2 separate regions of the Homo sapiens genome follow, and region 2 is linked to region 1. The links come from fine-mapping of genetic effects on gene expression. A gene starts in region 1. The other region holds a variant in brackets. All regions are shown on one strand. Distances are from middle to middle.

Region 1 (5,364 bases):
AAAAAAAAAAAAGTAAAACAAGCCAAGTTATATATGAAATATGAAGATGCTTGGATTCTTTTATGGGGAGAAGACACCACCCAGATAGCTCTAGTCCCTGCTCCAGCTTTGCTTTCTTAGGGAGTTCAGGAAGCGGCTGTAGGTTGCCCAGGATGGGATCTTGGAGGGGAGATGGGGGAGGCTGCTGTTGGGTGCTGTATCTCCTAGCCAAGGTCATCAGGATTGGATTGCCACATGGTCCTTCACCTCTGGGCTCAGGTCCTGGTGATGGGGCAGTAGTCTTGCATGGGGACTGGGGGTGACTCAAGAGCAGCTGACTGGGGACCTGAGCCCACAGGGGCAAGAATTGCAACATGGTTCTGGGAAGTGATCCCCCCCCAAGGCTGATGCGAGCTAGAACCCGAGATGTAAACAACCCAGCCTTTTCCCAGCCAACAGTCTTGGCTAGAACAACCCTAGCACCACCTAGCTCTGAGGCTCTGAGAGCCCCTCCTCAGGGGTAGAGGAAGGAGTGACATTTAACCTTTGGTATACCAGAGGGAGCCAAGCAGTCCACACCAGTCCGGGGCTGCTCTCAGGGAGCTGCAGGCTTGCCCTGACCTGTTCTGGCTGATGCCACAGCCAGTGCCTGGGGAGGCCTGCTGTGGCCTGTGCCTAACTATGCAGGAAATGTCTTTTGCCCCTAGCATACCTGCAGGATAAACACACCCCGGGCTTATGACCCTTGGTTGAGGAGCAGCTGCTTCAGGACTTGGGGAAGGATGGGACTGGTCTACTGACGCTGGAAGGCAGGAGGACTGAGGCCAGGCCCCGTCAACCCTCAGAGAGCAAAGCTGAGAGAATTTGCCTAGAGCAGAACGACAGAAGGAAGATGGGGAGAAGACAGAACGACAGAAGGAAGACGGGACAGAAGAGATGGGGAGAATCCACATCCAGGAGCTCTGGGGGAAATCCCCTCTGGAGTCGTTCAAGAAGCTAGGGGGGTCTAAATATTCACACCTACAACCTCCACCCCATACCCTCGGGAGAAAAATGAAGGCTCAGTCAAATGAAGGACTTCCCTGGAGTCAAGAGAGCCGCAAGGCCTGGAAAGGAAGTGCCCCCATCCCTCTCCTCCCCCCAGGCCTAGGCAAGTTTCTCTCCTCACAGAGACTATGAGGTCGAAACCACAGAAGAGAGGACTCTTGTGTCTGCGGCTGGGTGGGAGGAAGGGCCCAGCGCCAGACAGGCCATGGGGAGGAGAGGGCTGTCCTGGAGCTGGTGCAGGACTCTGGAGGCCTGGTAGGAGGGACCCAGCTGCATGAGGCCTGCACCACCCCAGCTTTCCCTCCACATTGGCCTGGAGAAAAAAGCAACTATGTTGGGTCAAAGAACCCAGTCGGCTGGCTTTGTCTTTGCGAATGAGAGAGATGCAAGGTATCCCCTAGGAGAAAGTCAACGGAACACCTCCCACCTTGGCTTAGGGGTCCAGGGGAGGGTGGGGGGACCTCCAGCTCTGCAGTAGGCCCTGGATCCTAGCCTCTGGGGCTGCTCCTCCCTCCCTTCCTGGGCCCAGAAGCAAATGGTGGTTCTGGCACTGGGACCGCCCATGACCCAATTAAAACGGAGCCAGGGCAGCCGCCCCTCCCCTGGGGGACCCAGCAAAGCAGGGGAGGGAAAAAAGGTAAGGCAGTGAAGTTGGCGGTCGGCAGCTCCCCAGATGCTCAGGCTCGTTTTGTTAGGGGCGCTCCCTTTCAGGTCTCAGAGGACTCTAGGCCTGGGAAGAGGACGACTCCTCCCGGACAGTCAGGCTCAGCCTCCAGCACCAGGGCAGGTTTTTACTCTCCCTGGTCTCTGAGCACTCCACGTTTCGTCTTCCACCCCGATTCCTGGGGCCATACTTTTCCAGTCGGCCCCAGACCCTTTCAGGGACGCAGAGAGAAGACAGTATTCTTTCCAAAGAGTTTTCTCCGGGGTGGGACCAAGGAGGAGAAGCCAAACCCATATCCCATCCCCCTTCTAGGGCCCTTCCTGGCCCCTCCCAACCGCACCCAGGCCCTTGCCAGGCTGAGTGGGTTGAGATGGCCCAAAATAAGAAGCTCATTAAATCCGTCTCCCACCTTCACCCCAAAATAAGAGAGAGAGAGGAAAAACCTCCTCAGACAACTCCCACGCAGCTTCCTCTGGGGCCCGGTGGGCCACCGTCTGGGCCGGGGTGAGGGTGGGGGGCGCCCGAGCCAGCCCCGACGTGAGGGCACCCCGGACCAGACCCTCTCCCCATTCCCCAAGCGACGCCCCCAGGCTCCCTGCAATTAACACAGAAAAACTATTAACAACAAAAAGGGCCTGAAGGCGCCGACGCGGGTGGGGATAGGGGGAGGCAGCGACCCGGCCGATCGCCCGGCTCACAAGGAGAGCTTTGTGTGTACGGAAACGCGGCCAGCGCGCCGGCGCTGCGACCCTCGACGCCAGGGATGCGGGTAGGGACACAGCGGGGTCCTCTCGGGGAGACGGGGGCTGTGGCCCTGGACGCTCGGCCGTCCACCCTCGACCCCCACCTGGCCGCAGACTCGTCCGCTGAAGGCCTGGGCCACCCGGGGAGGCCGAAGCGCCCATCGGAGGGCGCGCCGGCGGGAGAGCGCTGGAGAGCTGGGAAGTCGAAGAAACAACAAACTCTCGCGCATGACGAGGAGCCGGGACAGCGCGGGGTTTGAGCGGAGTCCAAATGTTTATCAGGCGGTTCCAGAGCTGAGAGCAGAGCCCAAGGGAATCGGGGAAGGGGGAGTTCGCCCCAGTTGTAAAGTTCTTCCAAGGACTGGGAAAAAAGAAGGAATGGGAAGGAGAGTCGGCGGCGCAGGGGGTGGGGGCAGCTGGTTGGAAGCGGGCAAAAGTTGGATCGATCTGGAAGTTTGGAGACGAAGAGGAAAAAGAAAGGGAGGGGGAATCCTGCAGGCCTGAGCAGCGGAGATCCCAAAAGCCCTCCTCTCCGAATAGAGGCTGTCCCCTAGGAGACCCCCGGGCTCGCCTCCCGGCGGGCGCGACTCCGGGAAGGGCCGGGAAGCTCACTTACTTCGGGGCTGAAGCTGCTGCTTTGGGCCGAGCCGAGGGAGGCGAGCGCGGTGCCGAGCGTGAGCAGGGGGAGCAGGAGACAACGGGGGGGTCTTGGGGCGGGAGACATGGTCCGAGACCACCGGGTCAGCCGGGCAGTGTGGGCTCCGCGGCCGGGCCCACGCCCTGGGGTCGCACCGCCACTCCCTCGGGGCGCCTTTGTCTTCGGTAGGCACTGAACTTGAATTCCTAGACCGCTGTCGGCTTGGAGTTAAAGGGGATTGTTCCTCAAAGTGCCTGTTTGCTCTTCTCCTCTTTTCCGGTTTTTGATCTTTCTTCTGCTTAGTCGGCGAACTGGGGTCTGGTTCCCTCTCTCGCTCTCTCCTCTGGTCCCTCCCTTCTCCCACAGCCTCTCCTCCGTCCCCGCCCCAGTGCCCTCCTTTCCTGGTTGGGGACGTGGTTGTTTTAGCCTGAATCCAATTACAACCAAGAACTGGAAGGAAAAAAAAAAAAAACACCTCTAAGTTGCCTTTTTGTGGTGCAGGCTGCCATCTGCAGGGGTTGAGGCCGCGATGGACAGCAGGGGGCTGTAGGGGGATCCAGGGGACGGGATGTGGGAGACTTTGTCCCTATAAGCATATTCTGAGTGGCTTGATTCCTCTGGTATTCAGCATTTGTCTCACCTCAGGGTGGGAATTATTGGGGGCTATGTGGCTAGGGGCAACGAGGAGCTCAGAGTGTGGGATGGTGGTGGGGTCTTCTTCCATGCCCATGAGACCTGCAGAGGGAGAAGGGGCCAGTTTACTAATAGGGGGTTATCTTCTGGGCCCTGTAGACAACTGTCTATGTCCCTCCCTCTGCTGCTAAAAAATCCAAACTATAACCCAACTACCAACAACAAACCCCACAACCATACCGGATCTGTGGCTCCAACCTTTGTAGAAAGACAAAGGTGATTCCTTTATTGTCATTTGTAATGTGGCTGCACCTTTAATTGGAACTCGCTGGGAGGAAAAGGGTACAAGGCCGTGGGATCTGGGGGAAAGCAAATCAAGTTGGGTGAAATTATTGTAAAAGAAGGGATTGGGAGTTGGGACTCTGGGGTTTAGTTCCACCTCTACACTGAAAAAGGAGGCAATTCTTAAAGAGTTATAATCTCCTTTAGGGACTTACTGGACTCAGAACAAAAGGTGGAGGTATGTAGGGAAGGGAGAGGGCAGGATAAAGCTGACCGTGAGAAAGGGAGACAGATGAGTTGGGAACTAGACAGGTCTGGAAAAGAAGCACAACAGAAGCAGGAAAAGTGTGGGAGACAGAAAACTAGACTATCAGCGAAATCTAAGATCCAAGAATTGCATTTGGCCAGTGAGAGAGGACAGAGGTAGTGCGAGGAGGAAGGGAGAAGAAAGCAAAGGAAGGAATAGAGGAGGGTGGACAGAAATTAGGTCAGGTAGGAAGCTCCAGAAATCCTAGGGATGCACTTCTGTGGCAGAAGAATAGAAGTCTAGTGCTCAGTATTGTAATGAAAACAAAGGTCTTTTGCCCTCAGATTCATGATCAATAAAATGAAAAGCTTTTCAGGTCCTGTGGAGCCTCCAGGTTTGTGGGAGGTATATGGTGTGTGTTATTAAACAGCTACCTACCCCACAGTGACTGAGGGCTGAGCCCTTATGTAGGGCTTTCCTACACAAGCTGGGGTTGGGAGGTACAGGCCCCTCTTCAACCAATCTCTGGAATGCATTCAGAACCATGGAGACCTCAGGACCCCACTCTCGGCAGAACACGCAACACCCAGGTATGATTCTTCCCACATCAGCCTTCCCAGTGGGGGTAACCTCCTGGACCACATATCTGAATCTTAGGAAGACTGACACCAGATGCTTGCCAAAAAAGGGACCTTGGCTAGAAAATCTTTTTCATGAAAACATTTATTAGATGCCAGCTGTACATGGCCTAAACTGTGCATGAGCTGTTAAAGGCTTGACTGCCTGGCCAAAACTGGGAAAACTGCTGTCCCCTTTTCACGTTCACAGAACAGCTATTTCTCATAGTTGGGCTAGTCCTATGGCCTGCAAAGGAGGTAAATTTTTTTTTTTTTTTGAGACGGAGTCTCGCCCTGTCGCCCAGGTTGGAGTGCAATGGTGTGACCTTGGCTCACTGCAACCTCTACCTCCCGAGTTTAAGCGATTCTCCTGCCTCAGCCTCCTGAGTAGCTGGGATTACAAGCGCACCCCACCACGCCCGGCTAATTGTTTGTATCTTTAGTAGGGACAGGGTTTCACCATGTTGACCAGGCTGGGTTGGCCAGGCTGGTCTCGAACTCCTGATCTTGTGATC
Region 2 (5,364 bases), 290 kb after region 1:
GCACCTCAAAGGGCTGGCGTGGGGCTGGATCAGGCAGCAGAGTGGTGGGTGGTCCCCAGCCACGAATTTGTGAGACAATGCACAGTTTCAGTGGAAACCCAGTCTGAGAGGAGAGGCAAAGGAAATGCTCCTGGAGGGCAGGAGACAGTGGGTGGCATTTTGGGGACACTTGCTGTGTGGTCCCTGTCTGCCGCAGGTCACTGCCACCCATGTGTGTGGGCTCCTGTTATGGGTGGTCCCGTGGCGTGGCATGAGAGTGGGAGAGGAGGGGTCCAAGCTGGTAGGTGGGTTTTCCTGGCCCTCAGCATAGCCTGCTAAGCGGAAGCTTTTAGAGGTTATTCCAAGAAGAGGTTGACTTAGGCAGCTTGTTGAATGAGGCTTCCTGGACAGCATCATAGACAAATGCCTTGGTTTTTCTCTGCCCAGCTAGTGATCACCAGCAAGCAGAAAATGACTCCTACCAAACCCAGTCAAACAGAGGCACAGTCTCTGCTCTTCCAAATCATTTTAATGAAGGCATCGGCAGCAGGACATACAACACGCCCAGATACACAGCATAGCAGGGCCTCGATAATGAGATAATTTCCCCCCACGTCTTGAGAAGAAGAATACTATGTATTTCTTTATGAACACTATTAAAAAAAAATAAACCCCTCACAACATTCTGCAGGACCTAGAGCCCAAGAGAACCCACTGAAGATCCATCATCTGTGGGATGGCGGAGGCAGTCTCTGGGGAGCAGGAGGGAATGTGCACAGCCAGGGGAGGCTGCAGCAGCCTTGCCTCTGCCGTGAATGTCAGGCAGTGACAAGCAGCAATAAGGGAACAGAGGGGGTGGCAGCAGTGTTTGGCAGCTCTTCAGCAATCTTAATCATAAATTCGGGTAGGATCCAGTTGGTGGCATTGCCGGGGGGGCACAGAGGTGGTAGCAGCTTTCACCTCCTTGGGGGTAGGAGAGTTCCCTCTGTTTGGAGAGGGAGAAGAGGGGCAATGCAGAGGAAGGAGCGAGGGAGCACAGGCTGTCTTACAATCTTGCAGATCTGGAATGAGGAAGAACAGAAGTCAGGCTGGACACTGAGGAAGACCCAGGACTGTTAGGGATGTGATGGTGATGGCTCTGTTTGGGGCTATGTGGTAGAGTTCTAGGAGCAAATGTACCCTGGAGTTCTTATTTTTTTTATTATTTGAGACAGGATCTTGCTTTGTCTTCCAGGCTGGAGTGCAGTGACGCAATCACAGCTCATTGTAGCCTCAACATTCCAGGGCTCAAGCGATCCTCCCATCTCAGCCTCTTAAGTAGCTGGGACTACAGGTGTGCAGCACCACACCTGGTTAATTTTTTCACTTTTTGTAGAGGCGGGGTCTCCCTGTGTTGCCCAGGCTGGTCTCCAGCTCCTGTGCTCCTCCTGCCTCTGCCTCCCAAAGTGCTGGGATTACAGGTGTGAGCCCCCGCACCCAGCCTGGAGTTTTTTTTTGATGGTGATGGAACAGGATGCAGTTGTCAGCAAGACGACTGGGGACCCTGGGGGAGGAGGGTGCGGAGACTCTAGCCAGGATTGGGGTGTAATATGAGTGTAATGTCTTCTTTCTACTGAGCTAAGAGAGCCGTACTGGGGAGAGAGGACATGAGGAGGTTACACGGTGAGAGAAGTACAACACAAGGCATGTGGTGTACACAAGTGTCTCTCTTCCTCCACTCATTAGCTGTGGGGCCTCAGTTTCTTCGTTTCTAAACAACTGTTCTTCCTACCTCATAGGGGAGAAGTGCAACTGAGGCGGCTGAAATGAGGATATTTTACAGCGTTTCAGGCCATTATTATTGCACAAGAGGAATTTGTAACAGGAAGAAGTAGGAGAGTTTGGTGGGCTCAGGCTTTGGACTTAAAAGCAAGACCCTGCAGGGAGGTTTGCTCTCAGAGCTTAGGATGCACCCAGAGACCCGCGTCCCTAAACCCCACTCCCAGCTTCAAGGCCCCTCACCTCAGCTGGACCACAGCCGCAGCGTCATGAGCAGATTAAACCCGGCCACTTTCAGGAGGAGGATTCGGAACCCAATCACTGACAGGTTTTGAAAGTTTAGGTTCGTATCTGTAAAACCAAGAGGCCACAGCGGTTATGGGCTTGCATGTCCCAGGCCTGCATGGCCTGCAGGACACACCCACGGTTTTCCCCAAGGCAGAGCAGGCTGGGTGGGGGAGGCCTGCAGCTCCTGCACCTCCTGTCCCTTGCAGCTTCTGTGCATATCCCCTTACAAACAGATTCTGTGCATTCTTCCAGGGCCAACAGTATTGTGTTTCAAGACAGGAAACACCGACTAGACTTGGCTCTTATTTTATTTCTGAGCCCTTCTGGGGATGGGGTAGGTGCTCAGAATTTATCATCACAATACCTCGGGTCCAGATGGGCCCCTTAGTGAGTTCCGCT[A/G]CCACAGGAAGGATGACTCAATAAGAACAACTCAAATGGAAATGAATATGGGCCCAGGGTGGGTGTGAGGAGTGGCAGGGGATTCTTGAGAGACAGGACCATTGCCCACAGCCTATGTGAGTACTGTTGCTTGTCTTGAAAGAAGGCAAAACCTCTTGGCTGTCCTCAGGATGATCTGGTTCGTTTAGGGCTATCCCTAAGGGACTCAGAAATTTCACAGCTGGGCCACCCAGAAGCTCTCTCTGGCTCTCTTGACAGTGGAGCTGTTGAAAGGAATACAGAGGCCTAGGAGAGAGTCCTTGGTCTATTGAAGCTAGAAACTCATCCTCAAAGTGCTTAGAATGGAAAGTCAGAGATGGTGAGAGGGATTCAGGAGAGACCCCACCCAGCTCTGGGCAGGTCTTGAACCGCTGTTTCCATTCCTCATCATTCATTCCCACATCTACTAATTTCTTCCCACTCCCTCATCCAGGCAGGGTTATTGCGGGTTCATCACTTCCGCAATCCTGTGCAAACCCAGGCTAGACCCCTGTCTTACCTGTTTCAAAGCTTTTCTCGACCAGCTTGACATCACAGGAACTTTCTAAAAGGAAAAACAGACATTCTTTCAGCATCCAGAGCAGGCTGACTCTCCCACCCCAGACCTCCTAGTTCTTGGGCAGGTGAACAACTACAGCCTTTCCATGCCTCCTTGTGGAGAGATCTGGAGGGAACTTACAGCATATGAGCACCTGCTAGGGAGAGCCCCTGGCCCTGGCAGGACCGATACCTCGGCTCCTGGACACCATTTCTATTTACTCAATATACACTGTTTGTACAAAGTACATGTTGCATGACCCTGGCCACATGTGCCATCACACATAGACCCTGCTCTTGCCTGGCTTCATTCTAGAGTCCAATGGAGGCAGCGAGGCATACATAGTGACAAGGGCCATAAAGAGTATAAACACGTACTTTCATATGTTCCAAAAAGTTTTGATCCCTGCACCCCAAATTTTTTCCTTGGTTTCTTCTTAGTAAACGGCACTATCATTGACTCAGCTGCTCAGGCCAAAATCCAGCTGCCTTCCTTGATCCCCTCTTTGCTTTCTCATCCCTGCATGGTTCTACCTTTGAAACCTGAATGGTGTTGGTTACCTCCCTGCCACCACCCTGCCCAGGCCTCCATCATCTCTCTGCTGCAACTGCTCCCTTTCTGCTTCTACTCTTGGCTTACAACCCACTCTCCGTACAGCACTCAGATTGATCTTTAAGAAAAGCAGGCCGGGTGTGGTGGCTCACGCCTGTAATCCCAGCACTTTGGGAGGCTGAAGCGGGTGGATCACCTGAGGTCAGGAGTTCGAGACCAGCCTGGCCAACATAGTGAAACCCTGTCTCTACTAAAAATACAAAAAATTAGCCAGGCATGGTGGCGGGTGCCTGTAATCTCAGCTACTCGGGAGGCTGAGGCAGGAGAATCACTTGAACCTGGGAGGCGGAGGTTGCAGTGAGCCAAGATGCACCATTGCACTCCAGCCTGGGCAACAAGAGCAAAACTCCATCTCAAAAAAAAAAAAAAAAAAAAAAAAAAAAAAGAAAAGCAAATTAGGTGTCCCTCCCCTGCTTGAAGCCGATCAACAGCTTTCTGGCGTCCTTAGAATACTGTCTACCCTCTCATGGCCTAGAAGGCCCTGTGACCCGGCCCTGCCTCCTTCATTCAACTCATGCCTGCTGCTCTTCTCCTTTCTCATTGAGCTCCTGTCCCAGGCCTCTATAGGGTCCTCTCCCTGCCCTTGGTAGGGCTGGTATCTTCAAGTAGCATTTCTTCAGAGAGCCCTTCCCTGACTTTTGTCCTGAAGGTAGCTGTTTTCTCAACCCTGAGTTAAAACACATTCCAATCTGAAGTTATTTGGACTTTTCCCAGCTGACAGATGGGCTCCCCCAACTAGAATGGTGCTTCCTCTGGGCACACCCCTCATCTGACTTTTTAATTCCTCCACTTCAACACCTGGTGCATTCATGTGCCGGCACAATCAGTGATTGGTGGGTTAATGAGTGACTGCGTGAGACTGACTTAGTGAGCTGGGAAAGATTTTTTGGCAGACAGGGAGAAATAAGGAGAGGCAACTTGGAGAAGGGGCTTAGAATGAGGCCTAGAAGAGCAGTAAGGGGCAAACAGTCTGAGCAAAGGCAGGCAGGCAGGAACTCAGTTGGAGAGACTGAGGCTGGGCCACGTGCCCTCTCCTGCCACCTTCTCTTCATCTGCTTTTTTCCCGTGTCATTCTCTGGACTGCCAGAACAAGGCTCACTGTTTCTTAGTAAAAAGAGGGTTTTGGTGGCAATGGATAAGGCCGAGACCACCAATCAGAGGAGTTTTAGACATCATTGACCAGAGCTCTGGGCAGAACCTGGCCATTCCTGAAGCAAGGAAACAGCCTGCGAAGGCACCAAAGCTGCCCTTACCTGGGCTGGGGAAGAAGGTGTCTTCTGGAATAATGCTGTTGTTGAAGGCGTTTGCACATGCAAAGTCAGATTTGTTGCTCCAGGCCACAGCACTGTTGCTCTTGAAGTCCATAGACCTCATGTCTAGCACAGTTTTGTCTGTGATATACACATCAGAATCCTTACTTTGTGACACATTTGTTTGAGAATCAAAATCGGTGAATAGGCAGACAGACTTGTCACTGGATTTAGAGTCTCTCAGCTGGTACACGGCAGGGTCAGGGTTCTGGATATCTGTGGGACAAGAGGATCAGGGTTAGGACATGATCTCATTTCCCTCTTTGCCCCAACCCAGGCTGGAGTCCAGATGCCAGTGATGGACAAGGGCGGGGCTCTGTGGGGCTGGCAAGTCACGGTCTCATGCTTTATACGGGAAATAGCATCTTAGAAACCAGCTGCTCGTGATGGACTGGGACTCAGGGACAGGCACAAGCTATCAATCTTGGCCAAGAGGCCATG

Alleles and levels. Alleles are on the strand shown, and positions count from the first base shown. SD is a standard deviation of normalised expression in the study named.
With allele G in place of A in region 2, the expression in iPS cells of the gene that starts at base 3,390 in region 1 is lower (moderate effect, 0.41 SD a copy in HipSci).

Evidence for each region. PIP is the estimated chance that this variant, and not a neighbour inherited with it, causes the effect.
Region 2: its variant is the best candidate, but not a certain one, in a credible set for the expression of MMP14 in iPS cells (HipSci, PIP 0.55).

The regions. Positions count from the first base shown.
Region 1 is chr14:22,834,611-22,839,974 of GRCh38, reverse strand. It overlaps MMP14 (matrix metallopeptidase 14), which reads right to left and starts at 3,390. Exons shown (of 10, transcript NM_004995.4): 1 at 3,050-3,390. The coding sequence starts at 3,157. MRPL52 (mitochondrial ribosomal protein L52) reads right to left here. Exons shown (of 5, transcript NM_180982.3): 5 at 4,938-5,364. RefSeq lists a silencer at 3,516-3,732.
Region 2 is chr14:22,547,281-22,552,644 of GRCh38, reverse strand. It overlaps TRA and TRAC. Among named protein-coding and RNA genes, the nearest start is that of LINC02332, 7.1 kb to the left of the region's middle. RefSeq lists enhancers at 1,759-1,808, 1,899-2,058, 2,069-2,148, 2,239-2,378. The variant A/G (reference allele first, on the strand shown) is at 2,425.